Homo sapiens: one gene and its partner. The protein of the gene in region 2 purifies or fractionates together with the protein of the main gene of each other region. This does not show direct contact. Each region holds a gene or a part of one and is shown on either strand. Other genes may lie near its edges.

The links.
Region 1: the proteins of CCDC198 (region 2) and AMPD2 purify together in Homo sapiens (affinity purification with mass spectrometry; 3 studies listed by BioGRID and IntAct, with this or other methods). This does not show direct contact.

Annotation. Positions count from the first base shown.
Region 1 is NC_000001.11:109,622,107-109,629,836, forward strand, and holds part of AMPD2 (AMP deaminase 2), read left to right. Parts: intron 1-1,922; exon of another isoform or gene 1,923-1,983; intron 1,984-3,196; coding exon 3,197-3,327; intron 3,328-3,555; coding exon 3,556-3,686; intron 3,687-4,053; coding exon 4,054-4,122; intron 4,123-4,212; coding exon 4,213-4,321; intron 4,322-4,619; coding exon 4,620-4,806; intron 4,807-5,068; coding exon 5,069-5,210; intron 5,211-5,322; coding exon 5,323-5,412; intron 5,413-5,667; coding exon 5,668-5,797; intron 5,798-5,976; coding exon 5,977-6,171; intron 6,172-6,257; coding exon 6,258-6,389; intron 6,390-6,536; coding exon 6,537-6,700; intron 6,701-7,002; coding exon 7,003-7,129; intron 7,130-7,220; coding exon 7,221-7,384; intron 7,385-7,689; coding exon 7,690-7,730. UniProt on the Homo sapiens protein: AMP deaminase plays a critical role in energy metabolism. Catalyzes the deamination of AMP to IMP and plays an important role in the purine nucleotide cycle.
Region 2 is NC_000014.9:57,476,265-57,484,725, forward strand, and holds part of CCDC198 (factor associated with metabolism and energy), read right to left. Parts: intron 6,921-8,461; exon of another isoform or gene 6,888-6,920; coding exon 6,801-6,887; intron 5,397-6,800; coding exon 5,295-5,396; intron 4,491-5,294; coding exon 4,331-4,490; intron 2,762-4,330; coding exon of another isoform or gene 2,745-2,761; exon of another isoform or gene 2,718-2,744; coding exon of another isoform or gene 2,665-2,717; exon of another isoform or gene 2,515-2,664; intron 1-2,514. UniProt on the Homo sapiens protein: May be involved in tuning the metabolism, energy expenditure, and excretion processes.

The sequences.
Region 1 (7,730 bases), on a different chromosome or scaffold from region 2:
CCGACTGCCCCCACCCTTGCAGCTGTCTGTAGCTATAGCCCAAGTATCAACCTCCTATATTTTTTTGTTTCATTGAAGATGACTGGTGCAAGGTCTCTACTGTCCTGAGGGTGTTCTCTGTGCCCAGGTCTGTGCCATCCAGAAAGGGTGTCCCCTGGGTGGGGCCCTTCCTGGCCCTGTTTGGTTCAGCAATAGGGCAACTGATACGGATCTAGCCCAGAGCTGGAGACCCTTCGGTGGTCAGATGGTAAGAGCATCTGATACTTGTGGGGTCAAAGCCGTGGACACCCCTGTGCCTACTGAGGCAGTCGTGGCAGTGTGTGAGGGGCTCCTGGTCGAGAGGGGAGATGGGGTGCTCAGAATCTCAGAGTTGGTGGGAGTGGCTCTGGAGCAGCCCACTCTGGCTTTTGCTTGACTTCTCCGTAAGTGTGGGTGTATGTGTGTGGTGCTGACCCCTAGAGAAAGGACCAGTAGGCAGCTGAGTCTTCTAGGCCTGGCCTCTGAGAACGTAGCGGTTACTGCCCGTGTGCCACCTTCAGTGAGCCTGCGGCAGCCCTGGAGAGTGGTCTGGCAGGCTGGGGGGATGGCACTGGCTGTTGGAATCTGTCCTGCTCACCCCAGGATTGCTGTGGAGCCTGAGACCCCCCTGCTAGGAGAGGGGGTTGAGATTTGAGCCTTTGACTCAACTCCTGCTGACCCAATATGAACCAGCCATGGAGGTCTGTGGTCGGCCTCCCCTAGAAGGAGTCAGAAGTGGTCTGGGGCCATATGTAGGGAGGAGGTGTGTAAAATCAGGGTTCTCGGGCAAGAAAAGATCTTACACTCTGGGGGTGAGACAGCTTCCCCTCTTTTCTTCCTCTTCCCACTTTGTCCTTTTCCAAGTAAGAGATAGAGTCACCCCATCTCCACTCCTGCCAAGTTCACTTCACTGCCCTTTACTGGCCTATTGCCTTTGCCCTGCACTGGGCCCAGGGAACCTCCCACTGTCCTCAGTGGGCGGGGCTACAGGTAGAATGTATTTTGAGGGTCCCAGGAGTTCATAATTGCAGGCCTTGCCTCAACACAGAGCCTGGTGTTTTGCAGAACACTTGCAGAGCCATTATCTCTGTGAGCCTTATGGCAGTTGTGGCTAGGCAGGGAAGGGACCACTTATCGCCCCACTTGTAGATGAGGACCCAAAGCCTCCCAGAGGTAGGTAGAGACATGCCCGGAAGCAGGAACAGAATCAGATCCATGTTCTCCAAATTCTAGCCCCCTTTCTCCCAAACTTATTCTGGACAGTTTGTCCTGTCCCTGATGATAGGCTTGGATCAGGGGTTGCAGGTCTAGGGGCCTGCGAACCAGCCCCCTGAGCAGCTGGGCAGCGGGGAAGCCTCAGTGACTGGCCCCTACCTAGACTGGGCCATTTCCCCAGCTGCCAGCCAGCTCCTACCCCAGCAAAGGCCCTGTCTCTCCTGAGGGATGCCATAATCAGGGCCCAGAGGACAGTGGTGAGCAACAAGGCCACTGCCAGAAGAGGCCAACCTGGGGCTGTGGGTGTGATGAAGAGCGCTGTTCCCCTCCTTTTTCTCCCCTCTTACTCTTTGGCCAGCCAGGCCCTGCCCACTCACTGTCCCCTAGGGCAGTGGATTTTAAGGAGGCTTGGCTCCTCCCTGTCGGCCTGCCCTGCCCAAGTCAGCCTACCCTGCTACTCCCCCTTAGGAGCCTCACATCTGGCTGGGTCTTCCCTGGCACTGTAGAGGTGGAGGCCCTCTTCAGTTCTGGAGTTCGTCTTATCTCCCAACTCTGATGCTCCTTCCCTTGGTTTCTGGGCTCCCTTGAACTCCCCTAGCTCCGTGCTCACGGCCATCTCAGGGTCTCCCCTGCTTGCAGCTGCACTTGGTACAGCCTGTGCCAGCCCCTGAGGGACCGGCTGCAGCTTCACTGGCAAACAGGCGGGCAAGGGGCACAGGGCTGCTGGCCGGAGCTGCCTGCACTCTGCAGGTAGGGTTCAGGCAGGGGCCGGGGTGCGCAGGGGACGGGGTCCTGGATCTGGGGCAGGCCCCTCCCTCTTCCCTTTGTCCAGCTTTGGGACCAGTCCTGGAGTATTGGGAAATGGGCGCAGAGACTTTAAGGCCGGCTACCTAGGCAGATCCTGTAATCCTTCCCTAAGCCAGGGTGGAGGGTGCTGGAGGGGAGCACTCCTTACAGCCGGCTGAGAGAGGCAGTTTGGGTGTGGAAAGCTTCTCACTGAGGAGCTGGGGCTGCTGAGCCCAGGGAGGGTCCTTCGGGGTAGGCTGGAAGCCTTGGCAGCCCCCATAGACCAGCAGCTTCACGGCCCTCTGGTGCCAGCCTCCTCGTGGTACAGATGGAAAGTCTAGTCTTGATGAAGAAAGACCCCTGGCTTCTGACACTCCCTTCCCCAGGGCCCTCTGTGGTGCCCCCGGTCCAGATCCTGGGGCCTGAGTGGCATAGACTGTTTGTGGCAGCTCCTTTTGGAGGGGCAGGCTAAGGCCAGGCCACATTTTGGCAGCCCTGGGGCCCTGGGGGACAGGGCGGGCCTCCAGGGAGGAGGTAGGGTTCCCTTGCCAACCAGGCCCTCCACTTCCTCTCCTCTTCCCTTGAGGGCTCGTCCCTAGGTCAGAGCTGAGCAGCAGCTGCGGCTTCTCTTGTGCTGCACAGGTCTAGGATGTCAGGCACAGGGCCCTGCCCCTTTGAGTGGAGAATCTGCTAGTCCAGGGGCGGGTCTGATCCTGGGTTGCCTGCCCTGGGAGCTGCAGGCTGGGGGTCCCTGGTGTGGCCGCCTGGTCCTTACCAAGCACCTGGTGTGTGTCTCTGAGGGTGTCTGTGTGCGTACGTGCATGTGTGTGCACACGTACACACGTGCACCTGCCTCTGGGAGGTAGTCACGTGGAGATTCTCATGGCCTGAGGGATCAGGCTCTAGTCTCATTTGTGGAGGTAATGAATCTACTTGTTCTAGGGGCAGACTCAGAATCCCCACCCCAAGCCTGGAATGGGTGAGGGGTCCCTGCGTTAGAGGTGAGGGTGAGCCCTTTGGGAGCCACACACACAGGCCTACTCCTCAGCTACTGAGGAGGGACTGCCCTCTTTCCCGACCCTGGGCTCTCTCGGGAGCTGGCCTAGGCAGGGCAGGGGCCCAGGGCTTTCAGGGGCTGCCCCTCCACCCTTTGACCCTGGCATCACTGTCTCTGCAGAGGCTCGGGGTGGTCTGGGGGCCCCTCCGCTGCAGTCTGCCCGATCCCTGCCGGGCCCCGCCCCCTGCCTCAAGCACTTCCCGCTCGACCTGCGCACGTCTATGGATGGCAAATGCAAGGAGATCGCCGAGGTATCACCTGGCACCACCCGCACCCTCACCCCGTGTCTCCATGCCCTGCCTCTGCTCCCCACACCCCTCACCTCAAGCTGTCCCCTCACCTCACGCTTGGCTGTCTCCTGATCCTCAGCCTCTCCCAGGTACCCCTGGTCCTGCTGCCCTCACCCCATCCCCAGACTCTGTAGGAGAGTGCCCGAGGGCGGAGGGCCAGCCATGCTGACCTTCCTTCCCTCCCCCCAGGAGCTGTTCACCCGCTCACTGGCTGAGAGCGAGCTCCGTAGTGCCCCGTATGAGTTCCCCGAGGAGAGCCCCATTGAACAGCTGGAGGAGCGGCGGCAGCGGCTGGAGCGGCAGATCAGCCAGGATGTCAAGTGAGCCCGGCAGGCAGCTGCTTAGTCTCCCTCCATACCCTTCCAGACCCTTTCAGAGCCCCTTTTCTGCCTCTTTCCCTCGCACCCTGCCTTGGGGGGTCTGCACAGGGAGCATAGAGTGGGCTTTGGAGTCGGGCTGCTGGGTTCTGTTCTGTCTTCTAGCCGCCGGTGTGGCTGGGTCATGTTGCTTAACTTATGGGTCTGCTTTCTCATCTCTAAAGTGAGTGAGAACAGCACAGGGTTCTGCAGCTCTGCCTTTGAGGATCACATGTGACAACATGTGCACAGCACCTAGTGCGGTGCTGGGACCTGGGAGCAAGGGCCGTCCCTCGGGATCTGCCTGACTTCTCACCCCTCTTGCCTCTAGGCTGGAGCCAGACATCCTGCTTCGGGCCAAGCAAGATTTCCTGAAGACGGACAGTGACTCGGACCTACAGTGAGGAGGGCAGAGGGGCACAGGGGATGCGGAGCTGCAGCCTGCCCTTCTGCCGGCTCTAAACCCCTCCCTTGAATGCACCCCCTGCAGGCTCTACAAGGAACAGGGTGAGGGGCAGGGTGACCGGAGCCTGCGGGAGCGTGATGTGCTGGAACGGGAGTTTCAGCGGGTCACCATCTCTGGGGAGGAGAAGTGTGGGGTAAGTATGGGGTGTATGTTGGGTGAGTCGCCATCACCTATGTCTTAGTGGGTTCCCCCAGCCTGGAGAGCTGGGGGTGGGGGCTGGAAAGGGCGTTTCTCTTTCCAGCAGCTGGAGGGGCGGAGGGGCAGAGGGGCTGCCTAGGAGCCACTTGATGTGCTGGACCAGGGTGATCTGAGTGTTCCTGGGGGTCAGGGCCTGTGGGAGGTGGGGATAGTTTGGGTTCTAAGATAAGGCCTTAGGGAGGAGGTCTCTGAGTCCAAGACTGAGGAGAGTGATCGCATATCCTCATCTCCAGGTGCCGTTCACAGACCTGCTGGATGCAGCCAAGAGTGTGGTGCGGGCGCTCTTCATCCGGGAGAAGTACATGGCCCTGTCCCTGCAGAGCTTCTGCCCCACCACCCGCCGCTACCTGCAGCAGCTGGCTGAAAAGCCTCTGGAGACCCGGACCTATGAACAGGGCCCCGACACCCCTGTGTCTGCTGGTGGGACTCCCCATCTCTGCCCCATGCCATGTGCCCTAGCCTCCTGGGCTTCTCAGCCTGGTGCCTGGGCACCTCTGCCCTGCCTGCCTCTCCCTACAACCCAGGCTCATTCCAACCTCTTGGGGTACAGGGGTGGAGGTTGGGCAGGAGCTGTCTGACCTACTGGGTCTTCAACATCTCTTGCCCTCTGTGGGGCCTTTGGGTTGGGCAGTGGGTGGCTTGGAAGAGCCCTGCTCTGACTTTACCCTCCTCACCCCTGCAGATGCCCCGGTGCACCCCCCTGCGCTGGAGCAGCACCCGTATGAGCACTGTGAGCCAAGCACCATGCCTGGGGACCTGGGCTTGGGTCTGCGCATGGTGCGGGGTGTGGTGCACGTCTACACCCGCAGGGAACCCGACGAGCAGTAAGAGGGGTGTGGTGCATGTTGGGGGGATGCAGCGTGGGAGGTTGCGTTGGCTTGGGAGAGGCCACAGGGCTCGGCTTGCTCTCCTCACCCAAGCTCCCCTCCATGCCAGTTGCTCAGAGGTGGAGCTGCCATACCCTGACCTGCAGGAATTTGTGGCTGACGTCAATGTGCTGATGGCCCTGATTATCAATGGCCCCATGTGAGTCCCCTGCCATCCCAGACACTTAGCTCCCCTCCCAGCCCAGATTCTCCAGCCCCAGTTCTGCCCCAGACTCCCATCACCTGGTGTCTTGCCCTTCCTAGTTGCTGAGCCCTCGACTTCCCCGCAGTCTACTTCCCTCTTGGCAGCCTCCATCCTTACCCTCCCACCTGCTCCCTCTGATCTGCTACCCAAGCCCTCCCCAGGTGCCTCCCTTCAGGGCCTAAGTCCCTGCCTTGTTCTCCTCATGCCCAGAAAGTCATTCTGCTACCGCCGGCTGCAGTACCTGAGCTCCAAGTTCCAGATGCATGTGCTACTCAATGAGATGAAGGAGCTGGCCGCCCAGAAGAAAGTGCCACACCGAGATTTCTACAACATCCGCAAGGTGGGCCCTCACCCCGTGGCCGTCTCCATGTCCTCATCCCACACCTCTGCCCAGCCTCCCCTTCAAGGGCCAGGCCCCCCACACAGCATCCAGTACAGAGGGTCCTTTCCCATTGCACTGCCCCAGGCCCCAGACCTTCCTGGCCTCTGGTGGATCAGCAGTGCCCTGTTCCATTCCAGGTGGACACCCACATCCATGCCTCGTCCTGCATGAACCAGAAGCATCTGCTGCGCTTCATCAAGCGGGCAATGAAGCGGCACCTGGAGGAGATCGTGCACGTGGAGCAGGGCCGTGAACAGACGCTGCGGGAGGTCTTTGAGAGCATGAATCTCACGGCCTACGACCTGAGTGTGGACACGCTGGATGTGCATGCGGTCTGTGCCAGTGGCGTGGGCTGTGGGACTGAGTCAGTCAGGGGACCAGGAGTCACGGGTGACCTGAGCCTTCCCATGTCCCCCAGGACAGGAACACTTTCCATCGCTTTGACAAGTTTAATGCCAAATACAACCCTATTGGGGAGTCCGTCCTCCGAGAGATCTTCATCAAGACGGACAACAGGGTATCTGGGAAGTACTTTGCTCACATCATCAAGGTAAGGAGGCAGCCTTCCCTGCCAAGCCTCGAGCCTGAGGATCTGGGGGCTTTTAGGGGGTGAGACTCAAGGAGGGTAGGCAGATGACCCCCTGAAGAGCTCTGACTCAGCTCACCTCATGTCTGACTCAGCTCACCTCATGTCTAGGAGGTGATGTCAGACCTGGAGGAGAGCAAATACCAGAATGCAGAGCTGCGGCTCTCCATTTACGGGCGCTCGAGGGATGAGTGGGACAAGCTGGCGCGCTGGGCCGTCATGCACCGCGTGCACTCCCCCAACGTGCGCTGGCTGGTGCAGGTGCCCCGCCTCTTGTGAGTGTCCCTGGAGTGGGAGGGGAACCTGCGGGGTCATATTCAAGGGGTCAGGGCCTGCCTCCTGCCCTCCTAGGATGGCTGAGCCTCCCTTGTCCCTGCCAACCCCTCTGAGTGCAAGGAAGGGCTTCCTGGTCCCATCCATGGTCTGTCCAGCCTGGCCCACCTGGGTATCCTTGCTTTCCCAATATGGTTCAGATGCGCCCCTGCGCTCTTGGGCCAAGCTCTGACCCTTGCTGGACCGCTGGGTTTCCTCCCACTGGCCCTGACTTGCACATACCTGCATGTTGTCTCACCTGCAGTGATGTGTACCGTACCAAGGGCCAGCTGGCCAACTTCCAGGAGATGCTGGAGAACATCTTCCTGCCACTGTTCGAGGCCACTGTGCACCCTGCCAGCCACCCGGAACTGCATCTCTTCTTAGAGCACGTGAGCAGGCAGCGCAGAGCTGGGTATGGGGAGGGCAGCCGGCTTCGCATCCAGCTGCAGCTCTGGTTCTGACCCCAGGGTTCTGTATTAGGTGGATGGTTTTGACAGCGTGGATGATGAGTCCAAGCCTGAAAACCATGTCTTCAACCTGGAGAGCCCCCTGCCTGAGGCGTGGGTGGAGGAGGACAACCCACCCTATGCCTACTACCTGTACTACACCTTTGCCAACATGGCCATGTTGAACCACCTGCGCAGGTGCCTGCACCACCCTGTGTCTGCTTGCTATGCCATCTCTCGCCCAACAAACCTCACTCTTGGCACCTTGGGCCAGGGCCACTAGACCTCTGACCCACCTGTTGCCTGGACTGGATGGGTTCTTTCTCTGCCCTTGGAGCTACATCTGTCACCCCTCACAGCCAGTAATCTACCCCTGTCCCCCTTATCCCAGGCCTGCATAGTTATTGGCTGGAGGACATATGCGTGCTGGGTGGGGGTCAGGGGCTCCGGTGAGCCCAGGTGATCCCAGGCTCAGGAGCTGACACTGTCTTCATGTCCCCCAGGCAGAGGGGCTTCCACACGTTTGTGCTGAGGCCACACTGTG
Region 2 (8,461 bases):
AATAAAATTATATAGAAAAATATACAGTTAATATTTATTGAGAGGCTATCATGTGTCAGGTACTATTCTAGGGACAAGAAAAGGTCCCTGCCTTCATGGAGCTTCCATTTAGTAGATGCACTACTGGGACTCAGGGAAGGGCTTTGAGGTCAGTTCCGGTGCTCTTCCCACCCTCTGTGTTCATTCATGTCACAGCTTCAGCAAAGGGTAGGAGCCACAGAAACACATTAAATCTCATAGACTTGTACACCAAAAAGAGTGACATTCACTATGTGTACATTATATATCATTTGTGTCATATGATTGTATATGTAATTTATTATAGGAATGTATGTAAAATACATGTAAAGCGTGGGAGATTTCATTTTAAAGATGCAGTAGAAAGCAGCAACTGACTTTTATCTCACAAGAGAGCCACAACCCTCATTTCACCTTTCAACAGGGGAACAAGAATGGGCCAGTATGTCATTAAGAGGAGACTGCTACAGAGGAACCTTAATGACCAGACCCTGATAGTAGAATGCTTAATGACCAGACCCTGATAGTAGAATGCTTATGTAAGTGTAAGATCTTAGCTACACTCCATTTGTAGGAGAAAGCGAACTACTTTTAGAAGGCGTGGAAAGAAATCAAAGATGCTCTCTGGGAATAAGCAAAAAGGAATCATCGCTAGGACAAATGCCGAGCACAGAGGTGAAGGCTGTCGCCTCAGGAGTCAGGTGCCCCGTGAGTGCACGCCTGAGCAGCTTCACCTCTCACTGGCTGGCTGTGACCTTGCATATGTGACTGGACCTCTCTGGACCCAGACTCTTCATCTGTAGAAGAGAGGTGGTAATAATTTTCACCTTGTAGAGTTAATATGAAGATTAAATGCTGCATTTAAAATTCTTAGAAGCACTTGTAAATACTAGCTGTATCCATTATTATCCCAGTATCCTATACTTTTACATGTACAGGGCTGCACAGTGAACACTGCAGCACAGAACAGAATGATATCCTTTGGAGGCATTGTAATCTCTCTATCATCAAACAAATTTCCAGTGATATTTGCTTTACTTCTCTTTCCAACAACTTCAGCAATAGGCAAGTGAGTTGATGCAGACATGTTATTCTAAAAGTCTAGTTAATTATGATATCATTATAATAGGAAGAGTTAGAATTCCCTCTCTATTTCATGCTAGCAAAATCTACATTTTCTAGGCTCATTTTGTCACGTGTATCTCACACACACACACACACACGTACAGGAGTTGTTACAAAGAAAAAGATTCTCATACGGTTAAAGTGTTGAAAGAGTTCTCAAGGGTTATCTAGTCCATCTAAGTTTGGTTAATGTTCAAAATCACTTGAGGAACTTTTAAAATGTAAAATTCTTTCACCATCAACCTAGAGATTCAGATTCGGTAGGATGAAGCTGGGAGACAGGACTGGGTGTTTCTTTTGTTTGTTTTGAGATGGAGTCTTGCTGTGTCGCCCAGGTTGGAGTGCAGTGGCATGATCTCGGCTCACTGCAACCTCTGCTTACTGGGTTCAAGCGATTCTCTTGCCTCAGCCTCCCGAGTAGCTGGTATTACAGATGCCTGCCACTGTGCCCGACTAATTTTTGTATTTGTAGTAGAGACGGGGTTTCACCATGTTGGCCAAGCTGATCTCGAACCCCTGACCTCAGGTGATCTACCCACCTTTGCCTCCCAAAGTGCTGGGATTACAGGCATGACTGGGTGTTCTTGAGAAGCTCCTCAGGTGGTTCTGCTCATAACTGAGCTTTTGTGCACTACTGATGCAGCTACACCTCCCTGACTGGCACTTGAATTGGTTCCTGCCTGAGTTACTCCTTCTATTCTCCCTTCTCTACACTCCATCACTTCCAGGAGAACATGAGCTCCAAAGTCTGCCAGCTGCTTTAACTTTCCTTTCAGAAGTCGCAGAGTGCAGCCTTCTTTGTAAATAAGGTCAAGGACTCACAACCCCCACATTTGCAAACTTTTCCAAAGCTGTCCTTGACAGAGTTCCAAGTCCTTGGTGTCCTGGTGGGGCTGTGTGAGAGTGCAAGTCAAGAAGACCTGACCTTGAATTCTGGCTCTATCACCCTGGGGCGAATAGTAGCTCCTACCTTCTAGGTTGTGTGAGAATTAAAAGAGATAATGCATATTAAAGGCAAACCACAGTACCTGGCTTATAGTAAGCACTCAACAAACCTTAGCTTGAACAAAACGAAGCAGCTTTAAAAAGCATCAGGAGAGCAGAGGAAAACCCCTTTCTCCATGTGCCAGTTTCTCCTTGGTCCCCTCCAGGTCTGAGACATCTTCCAGGGACTTTGCCAATGCTGGTTTTTCTTGGCGTGCTCTCAAGTGATGACTCTTAAATGTCTAACTTTAGGTGAGGTTTTTTTCTTGGTTGTTTTGTGTATATTTTTTAAGGTACGGTTTAAATGGTAAAAATTGTTTATGTGACTACAAAGGATATTTCATTCTGAGACTTGGAAGTATAGGTTAAATAGATGCCCCAAGTAGATTTTCAATTATTCAGCCTTTTCTTATTTAATTAACTTATTGATCGAGCGTCTTGTTTCTCCAAGTAGGAGCAGTGTCTCTTTCAGCAGGCAATTTTGCGTCTTAGAAGTTCAAGACCTCCAGAGACATAGCCAGCTTTTCTGCAGCTCTCTCAGCGGTGGGTCAGTCCTGCTGATGTGGGGATTTGGCCCACGGCACAGCGATCTGTGTGTGTGAACAATATTGGAAATTTCAACTGTGGGTTTGCCCTGGGGAAATACAAACAAGGAAAACTTAATGGGGCTCTAATTGGTGGGGCAATGTAGCGTAGAAGTTGTAGACAAGCCTGTCCATTAGAAAGCATAGAGCGATCTGAGAGCATAAACAATTTGGCCTGGCTGAAATGTGGGGGCTGGGTGCGAGAGTGGCAGAAGATGAAGCTAGAAAGGCTAGGTAGGCAATGACTAGATCCTGAATGGCTTAGGATCCCATGTTGAGTTTATTTTATTTTATTGAGACAGAGGCCTTGTTATGTTGGCCAGGCTAGGTTTTGAAATCCTGGCCTCAGGTTGTCCTCCCACCTCAGCCTTTTGAGTAGCTGGGACTACGGGCATGAGTCACCACACTTAGCTCCATGTTAAGGAGTTTAGATGTTGTTTTTAAGCTGACAAGAATCCTGCTTGTTTTTCTAAGCAGGAGAGTGACATGGTCAGATTTGCATTTTATGAGATTACTCTGATGTTAGTGCAGTGCTTCTAGAACTTCAGTGTGCATGAGAATCATCTGGCAATCTTGATAAAATGCAGGTTCTCATTCAGTAGGTCTGGGGTATGACCTCCATTTTTGCCTTTTGTAATAAACTCCCAGGTGATACTGATGATGCTTGTATGTGGTAATACTTTAATTACCGAGTAGAGTTAAGAATCACTTAAAGTTAAGTGTTTCTTAAACTTTAAGGGAATCACAATAACCTGGAGGGGTGGTTAAACCCAGAGTACTGGGCATAACCCCTGCAGTTTTTGATTCAGTTACTCTGGCTGGGGCCCTAACAGGTTCCCAGGTGATGCTGATGCTGGTGGTCTGGTGACCACATGGAGAACCACTGAAGTGAATCATTGATGGATGGACAGTAAGACCTAATGGGAGGGGCCAAGTCAGGAGGCTGTAGCTGGAGCCCTGGTGTAACAGGACCAGGGCTATACCTAAGGCAATACTACTGGGAATGGAAGAGAAAGGGCAGATTTTACTGCTAGGTGATATCAGCAGGGCTTGGTGACCGACCAGCTGTAGGGAGATAGGGAAGAGTGACATTGGAGGCCTGGTTCACTGAGCCAGTAGATCAGCAGGAACAGCAAGCTTAGGTTGGGCAGTGATTCATTCTAGAAATTCTGAATGTGCCAAAGAGAGTTGACCTCCACAGAAAAGGGTGCAGTCAGGAAGATAAGTGTCTGCATATGGTACCAACTCTGCTGAAGCAAATTTGCCATGTGACTGCCGGCAATATATCTTCATATGCTTCATTCTCTCTAACCACAAGATGAGGCTATTTTGCCTTTTCTGCTTCTAGGGATGAGGCAAGACTTGCAATGAAGCATGCAAAGCATATTAAACCCATACAAAGAAAGAGACATTTAATTACCAAGCTTAAGCTTCTGTCTTTTCCTCCCAGCCATCCAAAATTACATGACAACATGCCCACTATATTCTGGGAAGTAAAAATCTCAGCAAGAGCTCAAAGCTGTTTGCTGTCTTCTCATCATGTCCCTCCCTTGGTAGTTTATTTGATGAAGTTTTAAAAACACTTGAAATGTTTTACTAAAAAATTGTACATGACTCACCGGGACCTCTGTTCAAGATTTCATCAGGCAACATGGTTAGAAGGTCATGGTCATCATTCCTTGGGGTGCTTTGAAGGGTTTTCTTGGCTTTATGGTCCCTTGGACTTTGCTTATTAATTCTTGCCTCTCCATGAAGACTTTTCTTTAACTCCATTTGGGCCTGAAAATCATCAACTATAAATGATCAATGTTCTTCCCAAGCTACTTTCACCAGACTAGATCAACAGATCAGCCACTTTGCAAGTTGTGTGCTTATCTGTAGACATCTGCAGTCCTCTAACCAGAACATGGTTTTCTTTTTCCTATTAGAAGGTATGGGAACTTTATTTATTGACAGGCTTGTTAAGAGAAAGGTGAGTGCACCCAGTCTCAAAAAGGTATGGCTCAATTAAGATGAGGACCTTTACAAAAGTGTGTTTCTGTCAGCTAGCTGATATGATTGGAGTTCCAGAGAGCAGTAACTAAAGGCTCATTTCCTAGAGGGAGGAATTTGGAACATGACAGTTACAGGCATTACTGGTAAAGGGTTTTTTTGTTTGTTTGGTTGGTTGGTTGTTTTTTTTACAAGAGGTCTTTCTTGTTAGATAATTCTATGGCAAGAATTATAGAGAGAGGCCTAGGTATCAGAATAAAGAACAACTCACCCCCTCCTCCTTTCACTAAACCAAGAAAAATGATCTAGCCCCATTTTCCTATGTCCAGAATGTCATAGGAGCAAACTGTTTTTAAAAATGGAGACTTGCGACACAGATACACAGATACAAACTTAGAAAAGACTCAACAAGGTTATCAGCAGAAGGAATCTTCCTGATTCTTCTCAGCTTTAGTAGTTGAACCTTCAACCTCAATGACGAAATTTAAAATGCTAAGTAAAGACTGGCTATCTATGCTTGATATATTCATGTGGCAGGGCAGTGATTATGTGATGAAAATTTGGTAAATATGACACTCTTCTCGTATTTACCTCTTGTCTTTTACGGATCATTTCCAGCACTTGCATCTTATGCAAATATTGTCTGTTCTCAGAAGTATACATTGGAGTTTGCATTTTCTTTTCTAGTACCTGCTATGAAAGACAACACACTTGTTAGTATGGGGTAATTTGTTACTGACTCTGCAATTCACAAGTTTAGATCCTTTTTGAAACAGAGTCAGATCTTAATCAGTCATAACCTGTAGAGATATCTTGTGATGACAAAAGTGGACTATCGTGTGTCCCTGACAAGTCCTTTGTGTCACTATCAATGAATGAAGTGGCTCTTTGATGTGTATATATGTAGTTTTTTAGGTTGCTATAGAGTTTTGTAAACCTTAAATGGGAATATCTTTCCACATCTCATTTTTGGCAAGATATCACTTCCTTTGTAAACAGATGCTTATTACCACCTCTCCAGAATTGTGTTCTGGTTTGAGGAAACCTTTCTTTTTCTCCCTGCCTCTTTTACCATTGAGTAATTGGCTGGCTATGAAATGAGAGGGAAGCTGCTGAATGGTGAAATGGAACCTATTTCTATAGAGTGCATTTCCATATGCCAGCATAAGCCTTGGAGAATATTGCAGTTTAGGGAGGATTTGAAGTTGATTATTTGTGACTCTGAACATCTCCCCGCCAGTGCATCATAAACTCCAGTGGGACAGTGCAGACGGTTATTGAGGGCAGCCAGAGGTCAATATACCTTCATTTGTCATTTGCTGTTGCCAGGAAAGATGATGTGTTTGACAATACCTTTTGTGTTGCTGTGTGGATAGTGACTGTCAGCTGATGTGAACCTCAGGGAGGGGCCATCTCCACAGATGCTGTCAGCACCACAAACGTGGGCTTGAGGATGTGACAGCACCTGGACATCTTTGTCAAGTCAGCCAGCCACACAGCAGCACCTAGCAAGCTCCAAAACAAATTAGGAGTGGAAAGTGTTGAAAATCTGCTTCTACCTCTAAGCTTTCATTTCTATGTGAGGGGAGTTCTAGTCAACAGAACATTATAAGTGCATAGCAGGGAAAAGATACACAGAAGACATTTCCCAGGATTAATTTTTGGTGAGGTTGTGTCAAATAAGTCAGGAATAACTTGTAGATAAGATTTCTCCTGCAAACTGAGAATAAAAAGTTTTAAACTGAGGGGAGGAATGAAAGGGAGGACTTATGCTGAATTTTTCACAGATTTGAAAACTTCAGAATCACCAATTTCTAAGTAAAAGTCTTTTCTCATCTACATTGCCCTGGTTTTCAACACAAAGCAGAAAAGGGTGCAGAGCTCATGCAAGAGGTAATAGCCACTGCCAGTTGGAGGCATGCACAGAAGAGAATAAATAGCTTTGAAAAGTTCTCACTCTGAATGACTTAACAGTTTGATTTGTCTTTGAACTCCTCCATGCAGAGAGTGCATGAAAGGACCAGTGTGCTCCAGTGCCCCAATCCTGTGTCGCCCACCCCCAGTTCACCTCCCTGTCAGGTTACTGCTGCAGCTCACCTTTGCTTTGTGCATTGTCCTGGCTTCTCGCTGGCTCAGGAGTCTTCCTGAAGTAATTACTCGTGGCAAGTCAATGGGTTCAAGCTTCTAGAAGTTCAACGTTTAGAGCAGTCAGCATTCCTCATGCCATGAGATGATGAAACAGAAAAGCCAGACATTAAATTATCTTAACACTTTGCAAAAGCGGCACTTATTTCTGAGAGCATACAGGAAAGGTGATTCTAACAGCATTACAGTTATATTGGTACAAAGGGCTTTTCAACCTATCTGGGTTCTTTATTATTCTAGTGCACTGTCGACAGTGCCTTATTGATCTAAGTGTTGGTCAGAGAGTTAGGAGACTAAGATACTCTTCTGTCTGCATTAAGGGACCATGTCCAAAGTTATCAAACCACCAGGATCTTAGAATATTAGAGATAAAAGAGGCGCTAGGAATTTATTTTATTTCACACATCCCTTAGGTACCCAGCTGAACTATTCCAGCCCTTAGGGAAGCAATCTGTTTTTAAGATCTCTAGAGAAGCTCCTTAGTAGTAATCACTGGTGATTATGAGACACATTTAAAATGAAACTGCAGTGTGCTAACACATTTTAGAGATGTCCTTTTCTAGCAGGGGCTTGGCTTGATAGGGGAGATCATGTTGGCATTTCAGGGGGTCACTAAGACTGGGCAGCAATTCATGTCAACCGGTCTGCCTCCAGCCGGATCTTGATCACTGAGAAGTGATCAAGCAGGTTTGGGAGACAAAGTCTGGTCTCTTGACATTGACATGCAATGGGGAACGTGGAGGGCCACAGAGTTTATGTGTTCCTTCAGTGACTACTTAATGACTGCTACATGCCAGACATGGGGATGCAACGGTCACCAAAAGTGGATGTGGCCCCTCATGGAGCTTACAATCTATGCATAATAGATGTACATTTGCTTGTGTGATTATTCAAGTGATAATTACACTGCAGGGCAGAAAAAACCTGCAGGGCAGAAAAAATCTGCAGGGCAGAACTATGACACTACATAACTGAAGGACTCCACCTGAAAAACAGGGTGTGTTAGGGGTTGAATTGTGCCTCCCCACAAAATTCATATGTTGAAGCCCTAGCCCTCCATACCTCAGAATCGGAACTTATTTGGAAATAGGGTCATTGCAGATATAATTAGTTAAGATGAAGTCATGCTGGAGTAGGGCAAGCCCCTAATTCAATATGATAACGTCCTCATTAAAAAGGGGAAATCTGGACACAGACACACACACAGGCAGGACACGATGTGAAGATGAAGAGAGAGGTTGGGGCGATGGTTCTTCAAGCCAATGAACAGCACCCAAGAGTGCCAGAAAACTACCTAAAGCTAGGAGAGAGTCGTGGAACAGATCTTCCTCACAGGCCTCACAGGGAACCAACCCTATGGACACCTTGATCTCAGTCTTCTAGCAAACTAAGGCAGGAGGGAAAGGGCTAGGGAGGCAGTTCAAGAAAGTGCCTTAAGGTAGTACCTTTTTAGTAGAAATTGGAAGATTGGGAGTTTTTAAGGGACTAAGTTGTGCCATAGCCCTGAGGTGGGGAGTGATCATGATCTCTTGAAGGAATGGAAAGAAATTGGTTGGCTGCAGTTTACAGTAAGTGAAACAGCAGCTTGGAATGAGCTGAGAGGTGAGGCAGGG